Linked DNA regions of Homo sapiens. The protein of the gene in region 2 purifies or fractionates together with the protein of the main gene of each other region. This does not show direct contact. Each region holds a gene or a part of one and is shown on either strand. Other genes may lie near its edges.

Evidence for each region.
Region 1: the proteins of FAM111B (region 2) and ZNF346 purify together in Homo sapiens (co-immunoprecipitation; one large-scale study listed by IntAct). This does not show direct contact.
Region 3: the proteins of FAM111B (region 2) and MACROH2A2 purify together in Homo sapiens (co-immunoprecipitation; one large-scale study listed by IntAct). This does not show direct contact.

What each region holds. Positions count from the first base shown.
Region 1 is NC_000005.10:177,046,637-177,050,289, reverse strand, and holds part of ZNF346 (zinc finger protein 346), read right to left. Parts: intron 1-3,653.
Region 2 is NC_000011.10:59,113,685-59,117,337, reverse strand, and holds part of FAM111B (serine protease FAM111B), read right to left. Parts: intron 1-3,653. UniProt on the Homo sapiens protein: Serine protease.
Region 3 is NC_000010.11:70,108,193-70,111,845, reverse strand, and holds part of MACROH2A2 (core histone macro-H2A.2), read right to left. Parts: intron 2,814-3,653; coding exon 2,639-2,813; intron 329-2,638; coding exon 163-328; 3' UTR 1-162. UniProt on the Homo sapiens protein: Variant histone H2A which replaces conventional H2A in a subset of nucleosomes where it represses transcription. Nucleosomes wrap and compact DNA into chromatin, limiting DNA accessibility to the cellular machineries which require DNA as a template.

The DNA.
Region 1 (3,653 bases), on a different chromosome or scaffold from region 2:
CAGAGCTGGGAACAAATGCACAGATACAGAAATTGAGGCTTGAGTTCCTGGAGCTCATACAAGGTCATTCAGAAAAGGTAACCATACTAGGGATGCCTTTTAGGCTACATTGCATATTATAGGCTGAGTAGAGAGAAAAGAGGACCATTAACATTTAGTTATGCGTTTTGCTCACATCTGTAATCCTAGCACTTCAGGAGGCCAAGGCAGGCGGATCACGAGGTCAAGAGATTGAGGCCATCCTGGCCAACATGGTGAAACCCTGTCTCTCCTAAAAATTCAAAAATTAGCTGGGCATGGTGGCGTGTGCCTGTAATCCCAGCTACTTGGGAGGCTGAGGTAGGAGAATCACTTCAACCCAGGAGGCGGAGGTTGCAGCGAGCCGAGATTGCGCCACTGCACTCCAGCCTGGGCGACAAGAGCGAAACTCCACCTCAAAAAAAAAAAAATTAGTGATGTGTTTTCTACATATATTTTCTCCTTTGGTCCTCAGAACTACCCCAATGAGGTAGGTATCACTTTGCCACATTATTCAGAAAAACTGAGGCTCAGATGAGTGAAGTGGCTTGCCCAAGGTGACCCAGCCAGTGAGTGAAGCCAGGTCTGTGACCCTAAAGCCTGTGCTCTCTTTGCTATGCCAGGCTGCCAGTGTGGCAAGAAGACCTGAAGGCTATAGCTCTTACTTACGCCTTCAGAAAACATCCCTGATTCTGGCCAATGAATTCAGTGAATCAGAGCCTGGTATAGGCATACATGCGAGCCTCTTGTGCATCAACATATGGCTTGATGTTGACTCTAGGCTGCGCTGCTGCCTCATAAAGCGGATGCCACGACTCACTAACAAGTCCATGTGGCTGAAATGGTGTCAACCTAGCAACTACTGCTTTAAAAATGTGGGGCCCAGAAGCCCCCACCAGTGGTGGAGGACTGATGGGGCTCAGCAGGACTCACAGATGATATGTCTCAGATGCTCTTCCATACCTGTATCACTTCAACTGGGGAAGTTTTGAGGATTTTGGGCAAGCCAGAAGAAATTTGCTGGCCTTTCCCACAATGGTTTTTCTAGTATAGGGAATTTCAGTTTCTCTGCTTGTTGATTTTGTTTCAGCAAGTCATCAAAAAAGTAATGTACATGTTGTAGAATATTTTATAATATGAGAAAATATTCTGTTTGTGGTGTTGAGTGTAAAAAAAGCAAGTTACAGGCCAGGCGCAATGGCTTGTGCCTGTAATCCCAGCACTTTGGGAGGTTGAGGCAGGCAGATAATCTGACTCAGGAGTTCTGAGACCAGCCTGGCCAACATGGTGAAACTCAGTCTCTACTAAAAAAATACAAAATTAGCTGGGTGTGGTAGTGCATGCCTGTAATCCCAGCTACTCAGGAGGCTGAGGCAGGAGAACTGCTTGAACAGGTGGGCGGAGGCTGCAGTAAGCTGAGATTGCGCCATTGCACTCCACTCTGAGCGAAAAGAGTGAAATTCTGTCTCAAAAAAAAAAAAAAAGAAAAAAAAAGAAAAAAACAAGTTACACATCAATCTGCTTCTTATGTCCTCAATTTTATAGAACAACAACAAACGCATAGGTGACAGCATGGAAAAAAGATCAAAAGCACAGAGAGTAGAGTGTGTTTCACTATTTTCCGACTTTTCCTTTCTTTTTTTTCTTTTTGAGATGGAGTTTTGCTCTTGTTGCCCAGGCTGGAGTGCAATGGCACGATCTTGACTCACTGCAACCTCTGCCTCTGGGGTTCAAGCGATTCTCCTGCTTCAGTCTCCGAAGTAGATGGGATTACAGGCATACGCCACCATGCCCAGCTAATTTTGTATTTTTAGTAGAGATGGGGTTTCTCCATGTTGGTCAGGCTGGTCTCAAACTCCTGACCTCAGGTGATCCACCCGCCTCAGCCTCCCAAAGTGCTGGAATTACAGGCGTGAGCACCCGGCCTACTATTTTCCAACTTTTCTGTAATGAATGTAGATTTTTAACATCAGAAAAGAGGTATAATGGTTGTTAAGAGAGAACGGTCATTCTTTGAGATACTGAACAGAAGCATCAGAAGTGAAAGTGTAAGTAAGTCTAGAACCATTTAATGCGCATCCAATAAAATGAGGGATATAGAGTCTGTTCTCAGAAAATAACCTGAAATGTAATAAAGTGTTCTACAGAGATGTTCACTGTAGTGTTATCTGTAACACCAAAAAGTGGGGGGTGGGGAGATTAAATGTTCAGCATTAGACGAATATTAAATGTAGTACGATGCAGTCACTAAAAATGCTTATAAAGAATTTTTTAATAACATGGGGAAATACAAATGTCATATTAAATAAAAAACATATAGAAGGCAATTGTATGGCCAGGTGCGGTGGCTCATGTCTGTAATCCTAGCACTTTGGGAGGCAGAAGCGGGTGAATCACCTGAGATCAGGAGTTAGAGATCTGCCTGGCCAACATGCCGAAACCCCATCGCTAGTAATACAAAAATTAGGCAGGGCACGGTGGCTCATGTCTGTAATCCCAGAACTTTGGGAGGCTGAGGTGGGTGGATCACCTGAGGTCAGGAATTCAAGACCAGCCTGAGCAATATGTTGAAACCCTGTCTCTATTAAAAATGCAAAAATTAACTGGGCGTGGTGGCAGGTGCCGGTAGTCCCAGCTACTCAGGAGGCTGAGTCAAGAGAATTGCTTGAACCCAGAGGGTGGAGGTTGCAGTGAGTCAAGGTTGCACCACTGCACTCCAGTCTAGGCGACAGCAAAACTCCATCTCAAAAAAACAAAAAAACAACATTAGCCGGGTATGGTGGTGGGCACCTGTAATCCCAGCTATTCAGCAGGTGGAAGCAGGAGAATTGCTTGAACCTGGTGGGGCAGAGGTTGCAGTGAGCTGAGATTGCGCCATTTCACTCCAGCTTGGGCAAAAGAGGGAGACTCCATCTCAAAAAAAAAAAAAAACAAAAAACAAACAAACAAAAAAGGCAATTGTACATACCATACGGTAAGATCATTGTTTGAGGCCAGGAGTTCAAGACCAGCCTGGGCAACATAGTGAAACCCCGTCTCTAATAAAAACACAAAAATTGGCCAGGCGCGGTGGCACGCGCCTGTAGTCCCAGCTACTTGGGAGGCTGAGGCAGAAGAATCGCTTGAACCCAGGAGGCGGAGGTTGCAGTGAGCCGAGATCGTGCCACTGCACTCCAGCCTGGGTGACAGAGCAAGACTTCATCTCAAAATAAATAAATAAATAAATAAATAAATAAATAAAAATAAATAAAAAAATTTTAAAAACCCCACACGTGTAATCCATATGTGCATACTGGTATTTTAAAACATCACCAACATATTAACAGTATTTCTCTCTTGGTGTAGGATTTAGGTGATATTTTACTTTCTTCTTTGTATCTTTTGCAATTGTTTGAAGTGGAATTATTCATAATGAGTATGCATTGTTTTTATAAAAACATGAAAGTTATTTAAAGTAGTCTATGTTTATATGCACATATACACGGAGTTAACCTAGATATACACAAAACGAATATACACACAGATATACAAAGATACATATAACAATAAGATTATAGGAGAAACAGATTATAGGAGAAACCAAAATGTTAACAGTGTTTATCTGTGAATGGTAAAATTATGGGTAACTTTTCTTT
Region 2 (3,653 bases):
TGAGTTCCTAAGGAGGCAGTACAGAAAAGTCCCCATGCCAAAAAAGAGTGGAAGTGGAAGGAGGGTCTAGGGATAGCAAATTCCAACTCAAACATGTCTCTTCCTTTCCAAGGTTGTGGGAAAGTATGTGGTAGTGATGGTGGGTTTTCTGCTTAAGGTATAGCAAGATCTCTAACTAAATAGGGTAAATGAAATATCTGGCTCATTCAGAGGGCAGGCAGCTCCCCTGTGACTTTACCCAAAGACATTCAAAGCAACTGCACGTAGTTTGTTTTCCCTCTAAGTGAGAAAGGGGTAAGGTTACAATTGTGTGTGCATCTCCCATTGAGATGTTCACCTGATTCTATCACTGCCTCAGAGACCTGGTAAAAATCCTGGGGCTTGTCAAATGGAGAAAGGGATGCCCAGGTCCAGAAGGGCTTTGCCCATGACCTCTCACGTTCAGAGTCTACTGGAGAGCCAGGACTCCACCTGCCTGACAGTCCCAGTCTGGGTCTGAGTTCTTGCCACCATTCTGCATCAGAATCACCTGGGGGTTTCTTGAAACAAAGATTGCTGAGCCCTAACCCAGAGGATCTGACTTAATATATCTGGGTTGAGGCTGCAGTTTGTGTTGATTCTGCCATCCTAGGGTCCAGGCTTTGAGAACCCCTGACTTAAGGCAAAGGACAGCTGACCAGGCCTAGCTACCTTAGCTCCTGTCTACTCTGAGGCCTTTCCTTGATGGCCCTCAACTGCCTTCTCCTCAGTTAAGAGTCCTAGAAGCCAGTCACTCTTCCCTCTATAGCTCTGGGCTCCAGAAGAGGGGCTCAAATGGAAAAGGAGGACCTGGCTCTTTTGAATGTCCCTTCACTGAGCCCTAGAATGCTCTGTGGAAAGGGCCTTTGGGACACAGAATTTCACCTTACCAGGAGGGGAGTGTCTAGAATTAAAATTAGAATAAATTATTGGATTGGGTAATCTGCACTCACTGTATGCGTTGTAAGAGTTCATGTGTGGTCAGGCATATTTGGAGATGCCTGTTACTCTTTGTTGGTAAGAATAAAAGAGTTTTGAATCAGCAGAATTTAGAGCAACATGTTCTGTCAGCAAGTTACCTAGAGAAGCAGAAATGACTGAGGAATAATAAGGAGGAAGTGACTAAGGCCCAGGACACAAGCAAGAGTCTAGGTGGAATCTGAGTAGAGATTCTAAGATTCTGGAGTCTTCTATGTACCTTCTCAGTCTCGAGGCCTTGGGGCAGAGCAGGAATTGACCACATTCACAGCATTCCCAAAGTGAGATTATGCCCAACCCCTGTCAAGATAGCCAAAGAGGCAGATAATGCACCGGGAGGTAAATATCCAAGTGAAACAGAGTAGGGACGGGACTCTGCCTCCACCACTAATAATGCATTTTTCCACACCCGCTGACTACCAGAACTTGCACCTCCACTGGTGCCATCCTCACTGGCTGTAAGACCTTAAAGAAACTAAGATAAGAAGCATTCTACCATAAATCTCATTCAAGGGAGTTAACTTTATTGCTTGCATGCACACAGGACTTTACCTCATTGCTTGCCTCATTATAATGTGAAAATCCCCACCCAGGGAGGGGCTTATCCACCATTTTTTGATCATGTGATGTAAGTACTAACATGATATCTCACTGGGCCTGCACACTCTACACTCCACCCAACACATGCAATGATATTAGCATACATCATGCTTTTCATGTCACCATGTTTAAAACAGCAAAAAGACCTCTCCTTGGGGAGCCATCTGGAGAACTCTCACTCCAGTGCTGTCTCCCTTGTATTCAAGAATAAGCCCCTAATAAAGCCTTGTCTGGGAAACTCACTTGGCCTTGTGTCAATTTCTATTGCATGGGAGACTAAAAACTTGTGGCTGGTAACACAAGAAGCTGGGTGTTTTAGTGTGATGGATGCCACAACAGTGGCAAAGATGGGGAACTGGATGACAGGGTGGGACCTGCAGGTGTTAAAAGCAGAAACAGCATGGATATGAGTAGTGGGTTCTGGAACAGCACAGAACCTTCCTATTCCTTGACTTTCTGTAACTTTTCTCCAGATTGTAACAGACTCAACCCTTGTCTTTCCCTGGCCCCTACTTCTAAGCCTGGCCAGGATTGGGGAAAGAAGAATAGCATAAAGAAAGAGAGAAAGTGGCCCCCATCCCACCTCTCTGACCCCTCTTGTCTGATGAGGAAAACCCAGGCATGTTCCTTAGAGAATTCCAAGTCTAATGGAAGGGACACAGGTACTGATTAGTGAGTCAACAAGCACTAGACCTATTGGTCAGTCAACAAGCACCCTCCCATCTCTGAACCTTTGTACTTGCTGTTTTCTCTATCTTCAATGTTGTTCCTCTAGATATTTCCATCTAGGACTCACCTCCTCACTCCTTTCAGGTCTCAGATATCACCTTATCAGAGAAGCCAATTATCATCACTTCCAAAACAGCCTCCGCCATTCTCTTTTCCCTTCTGCCCATATCAAAACACACACACACACGTGCATGCACACACACAAACACACACAATTTATTTTTCCTTTCTCCCTCTACAGTGTCAGCTCCAAGAGAACAAGGATACCACTGTATTCACTGGTATATCCTTGGTACCTGTGACGTACCAGGCACGTAGGTTTGCAAGAAATGTTCATTGAATAAATGATCAAAGTGATTGAATGAATATCTACTATGTACTCACCACTGTCCTGGCCAATTAGAGACAAGGAAGAAAAAGGCGAAGTTCCTGTCAGTGCTAAGGTGCTTGGGTTTTAGGGTCAAAACCTACTTGTCATTTCTGCTCCCTCTCTGGCCTCCACAGTTTAAGCCCTACATTCTCCATCTCTCTTTTCCTTCACACCTCTCATCCACTCCATCCCCTCCTCTCTGCCCCTTCAGCTCCCAGTCTCAGGCCACTGCAGGCCCCCTCCTCTTTAGCCTGGATGTTTTTGGAATAGCCTCCACTCTCAACTCTTCTATCCCTTCAAGCATCTTCCCATCCCCTCTTTTCCAAGGCCCATGGGGCTAGAGTGTTCTGGCCCCTGTCCACCCCTCCCTCTGCCCCACCTTCTGCTGCTCAGCTCCTCTCCCCTTGGTCCCAGCTACAGTGATCACTCAGGCCCTGGACAGGAAGCCTTAGCCATTCTCAGGGCTTGTGCATTCACCATTCTGTCTGGCCTTCCCTTGGGTGTCTTCAGGGCCACTTCAGAGGCCTCTTGACTTCCCTAGCCGGAGCAGCACTCCAAGGCACACACTTGCCACTTTCTGTTACCTTTGTATGTTCTTGATCCACTAGCGAAAACTTTCTATTTGTCTGTTTCCTGGATAATCTCTTTCACTCTTTAAAATGTAAGGTTCACAAGAGCTGGGACTCTGTCCTTCTTTCACATGCCTAGTCCCTAAAGTAGAAGCTGGTCAGTAAAGTTTGCCGAGGGGCCAGGTTTCAAATGCATTCTGAACAAATGCCTCCCCTCTGTTTTCTGTCAAATTGGAAAACACTTCCCTCTAGGTGTGGTGAGACTCCCATAAGATGTGTCTAATGTGCCGGGCAGACTGTTGCATCTGGCATACATAAGTCCCAATAACTTATGATCTTGACCATCCAGTTTCCAGGGGACTCTAAGTCTGGGGGACGCTGATAGAGAC
Region 3 (3,653 bases), on a different chromosome or scaffold from region 2:
TTTTGGAGGAGAGTGTGAAGGGCAGAGGGCTCCCTGCGCCGGCAGGACCTGCCCGGCCACCCTCCACTCCCCTGCCATCACCCCTCCTCTCTCCTTTTAAAAAGCAAAACCCCACTCTTGGGACTCGGGTCGTCCTCCGATCCCTGCTGGAAAGTGCGGCGGCTACTTGGCGTCGAGCTTGGCCATCTCCTGCACGTAGATGCCGATGCTCTCGCTGTCGAAGAGCAGGAAGTACACGTTCTTCAGCGAGGACGCGCTCGAGTCATCAAAGTGGGCTGAGATGGCTTTGAGGGTCACCTGGGCCGCAGTCTGTTTGGGAAAGCAGTTTCTGTGCCAAAGCAAAAGAAGAGCCGATGTCATTTTGGTCCCTGGGACCCATGGGAGCATGAAGTGCCTTTGTTTTTACTGGGTGGGGCCTTGCTGTGTGCAGGGCTAGTCCATGCATGATCTCCTTTGACCCTAGCCAAAGGGACAGCCTGGGGGTGGCAGGTGGGGCATGTTGCCCCCACTTTATAGGTGTCACACTGACTCGGAGAGGCACAATGATTTAATTTGATTAAATTAATTTATTTGTTTTGGGATGGAGTCTCTCTCTGTTGCCCAGGCTGGAGTGCAGTGGCGCGATCTCAGCTCACTGCAACCTCCACCTCCCGGGTTCAAGCGATTCTCCTGCCTCAGCATCCCAAGCAGCTGGGACTACAAGTGCGCACCATCATGCCTGGCTAATTTTTGTATTTTTAGTAGAGACGGGGTTTCACCATGTTGGCTAGGCTGGTCTTGAACTCCTGACCTCAGGTGATCCGCCTGCCTCGGCCTCCCAAAGTGCTGGGATTACAGGTGTGAGCCACCGTGCCCTGCCAAGCACAATGATTTTAGTCAAGGTCACAGGGCTGGCCAAGTGAAGAGTGCCCTGTATTTTATTTTTTATTATACTTTTTTTAAATTAGTTTTTTTTTCAGAGGCAAAGTCTTGCTCCATCACTCAGGCTAGAGTGCAGTGGTGTGATCATAGCTCACTGCAGCTTCAAACCTCTGGGCTCAAGCTATCTGTCTTCTGCCTCAGCCTCCTCAGTAGCTGGGACTAAAGGCGTGTGCCTATAAAAAAATTTTTTTTTTTAAATTTTTTGTAGAGATGGGTCTTGTTATGTTGCCCAGGCTGGTCTCGAACTCCTGGCCTCAAATGATCCTCCTGCCTCAGCCTCCTAAAGCTTTTGGATTTACAGGCGTGAGCCACCGTGCCAGCTCCCTATATTTGATTCTATGTCACCTGACCAAGTCAAGCTTGGCTTTAAAAATGCTAGCCATTCAGCATTAAAAATACCTGGTCTTCAAACAAGCAAACAGAAGTTTTATTAGCTCCCTCCAAACTGGTTTATATACTAACCCAATTGCTTAGTAAAGGGCAAAAATGTATGCTCCAAACCTGTCTTCGTAAGTCCTTTTTTATGCACTTAATATTTCATAGGCACAGGCCCATGTAATTTCAGCATTGTGACTCCGGGCATGGCGGGGTTAATGAAAGTTTGTTAAAGGCCCCAGGTTCCAGGGAGCTACTGATAGTGCCATCCACCAGGCTGGGCCACAGCACCAGCTTCCAGGGACACAGCCAGAATGGTCGTTAGGGGTCAGCCACAGAGACCCCTGGAGCAGGTCCAGGAGGGGCCTGTTAATAGGAATTCTTCCCAATCGCATGTATTCCAGCACAGAACAGCACTGCCGTGGTTCCACCGACGAAAGAATGCATCTCACAGCATCTCTGGGCCTGGAATGCTGAGACTCAATGCTGCTTGCCTAGGTTGATGTGTGATTACAGCAGGAACCTAGGTCTCATTATTTTCCTCTTGGGCTTCCCAGGACACAGCTATAAACCATAGCTATATTATAAAGGACAGCTCTCAAGGTGAGAGGGTGTTCAAAATTAAAGCAATAGATTGGCTAGGGGCATGAAGGGAAAGGATATGTTTTATGTGACAGCAGATATCCTCATTATGTATCTGAAACAATGCCCAGCTGGGATCTGTGACAATCCAGTCATTGCCCAGTCTCCTTTTCAGCAATCACTCGGGGACAGATTTTCACTTCTCTGGGTGTATTCATCAAAGCCTCGAACTCCTGGCTCTGCAGTCTCCCAGAGCAGCAACGGAATTCTCTGGGGATTCTGGAGCCAGAGGTCGGAGATGGGGGGCCTGAGATTCTGCATTCTGACATCGGTCACTGCTGCCTATGGACCACACTTTGAGTAGCAAGGCCTTCGAGCCTGGCGTTTTCTGATCATGTGTCCTGGACATGGACAGCTGGTGGGAATATGGACTTTGAACCTGGAAGGCTCTCAAAAAATAACACACCAGCTGGCCTCTGCCTCCCGCTCCTCCCCTGGGCTAGCCTTCCTCCTGGGGCTTTAACATCAAGGAGGCACTGGGGCTGGCCCCAGCCGGGGAAGACCTGCTGCCTAGGAGCCAGTGGGCTCGCTTCCCCATGGTTTCTGAAGGATGAAAACCGGGTTTCCTGCCCTGTCATCTGGTCAGCATACTTGGCTGTGCTGGCAGCCCTTGGCAACACCCAGATCAGATGTAAGTGGGGGAGCAGCTGATTTCCAGGGAAAAAGCCGGAGGAATCAACTCAGGGGAACTGCATCTTACCTGCCGCTGGGGAAAGGCGGGAACGCGACGGACTTTAGCTTCTTGTCCTCCGCCGCTGACAGGCAGTTTTTGATGGTCTCTTCAAGCTGTTCTTCACATTTGTCGGAGCCCCACTGAGGGATGTGACAGTGGATGACAAATTTGGCTGCGAGTCCACTGGATTGGCTGACGGCGGCTGGGACATAGGAGAGAAAATGCCGCGGGTTATTTCCTAAGGTTTCCTAGGTTATAGCCTAACCTCATCAGGTACCTGTTAGATCTGGAGATAAGGCAGTGATAGAGACGTTGGCTGGGCAGCATCCTGTGCTCCTGATGTGGACTATGTTTAACGAGAGCAAGAGCTGGGCTGTATTGCTTTGCACAGTTAGCACAAGCTTTGGGTAGAAGCGTTTAATGCTGCTCTGATGCGCCATTTTCATATGGTCTGCCAAGTAGTCCCTGGGTTGGGCTACCTCCTCACAATGGTTCCTAGTTAAAGGGACACATCAGATCCTCTCTGGTGGCTGTGGCAGGTAAAGTAATGGCATCCCAAAACATCCACGTCCTCCTCCCTGAAACCTGTGGGTGTTCCCGTACATGGCAAAAAGGACTTTGCAGATGTGATTAAGTGAAGGCTCTTGAGATGGGGAGATGATCCTGGACTGTCTGGGTGAGCCTGGGACCTGATAAGAGGGAGGCAAGAAGGTCAAAGGCAGGAGAAGGCCGTGGGATGAAGGAGACAGAGATTGGAACGATGCAGCCAGGAGCCAAGGAATGTTGCAGCTTAGAAGCTGGAAAAGGCAAGGAAGGGATCCTTCCCTGAGCCTCCAGAAGGAACCAGCCCTGCCAACACCTGGATCTTAGACTCTTAAAACTCATTGTGGACTTCTGGCCTCCAGAACTGTAAGAAGACAAATTTGTGTTGTCTGAAGCCACGAACTTTGTGGTAATTTGTTACAGTAGCCACAGGAAATGAATACAGTGGCTTTTATTTTTATTTTTTTATTTTTAGTTTTTTTTTGAGACAGAGTCTTTT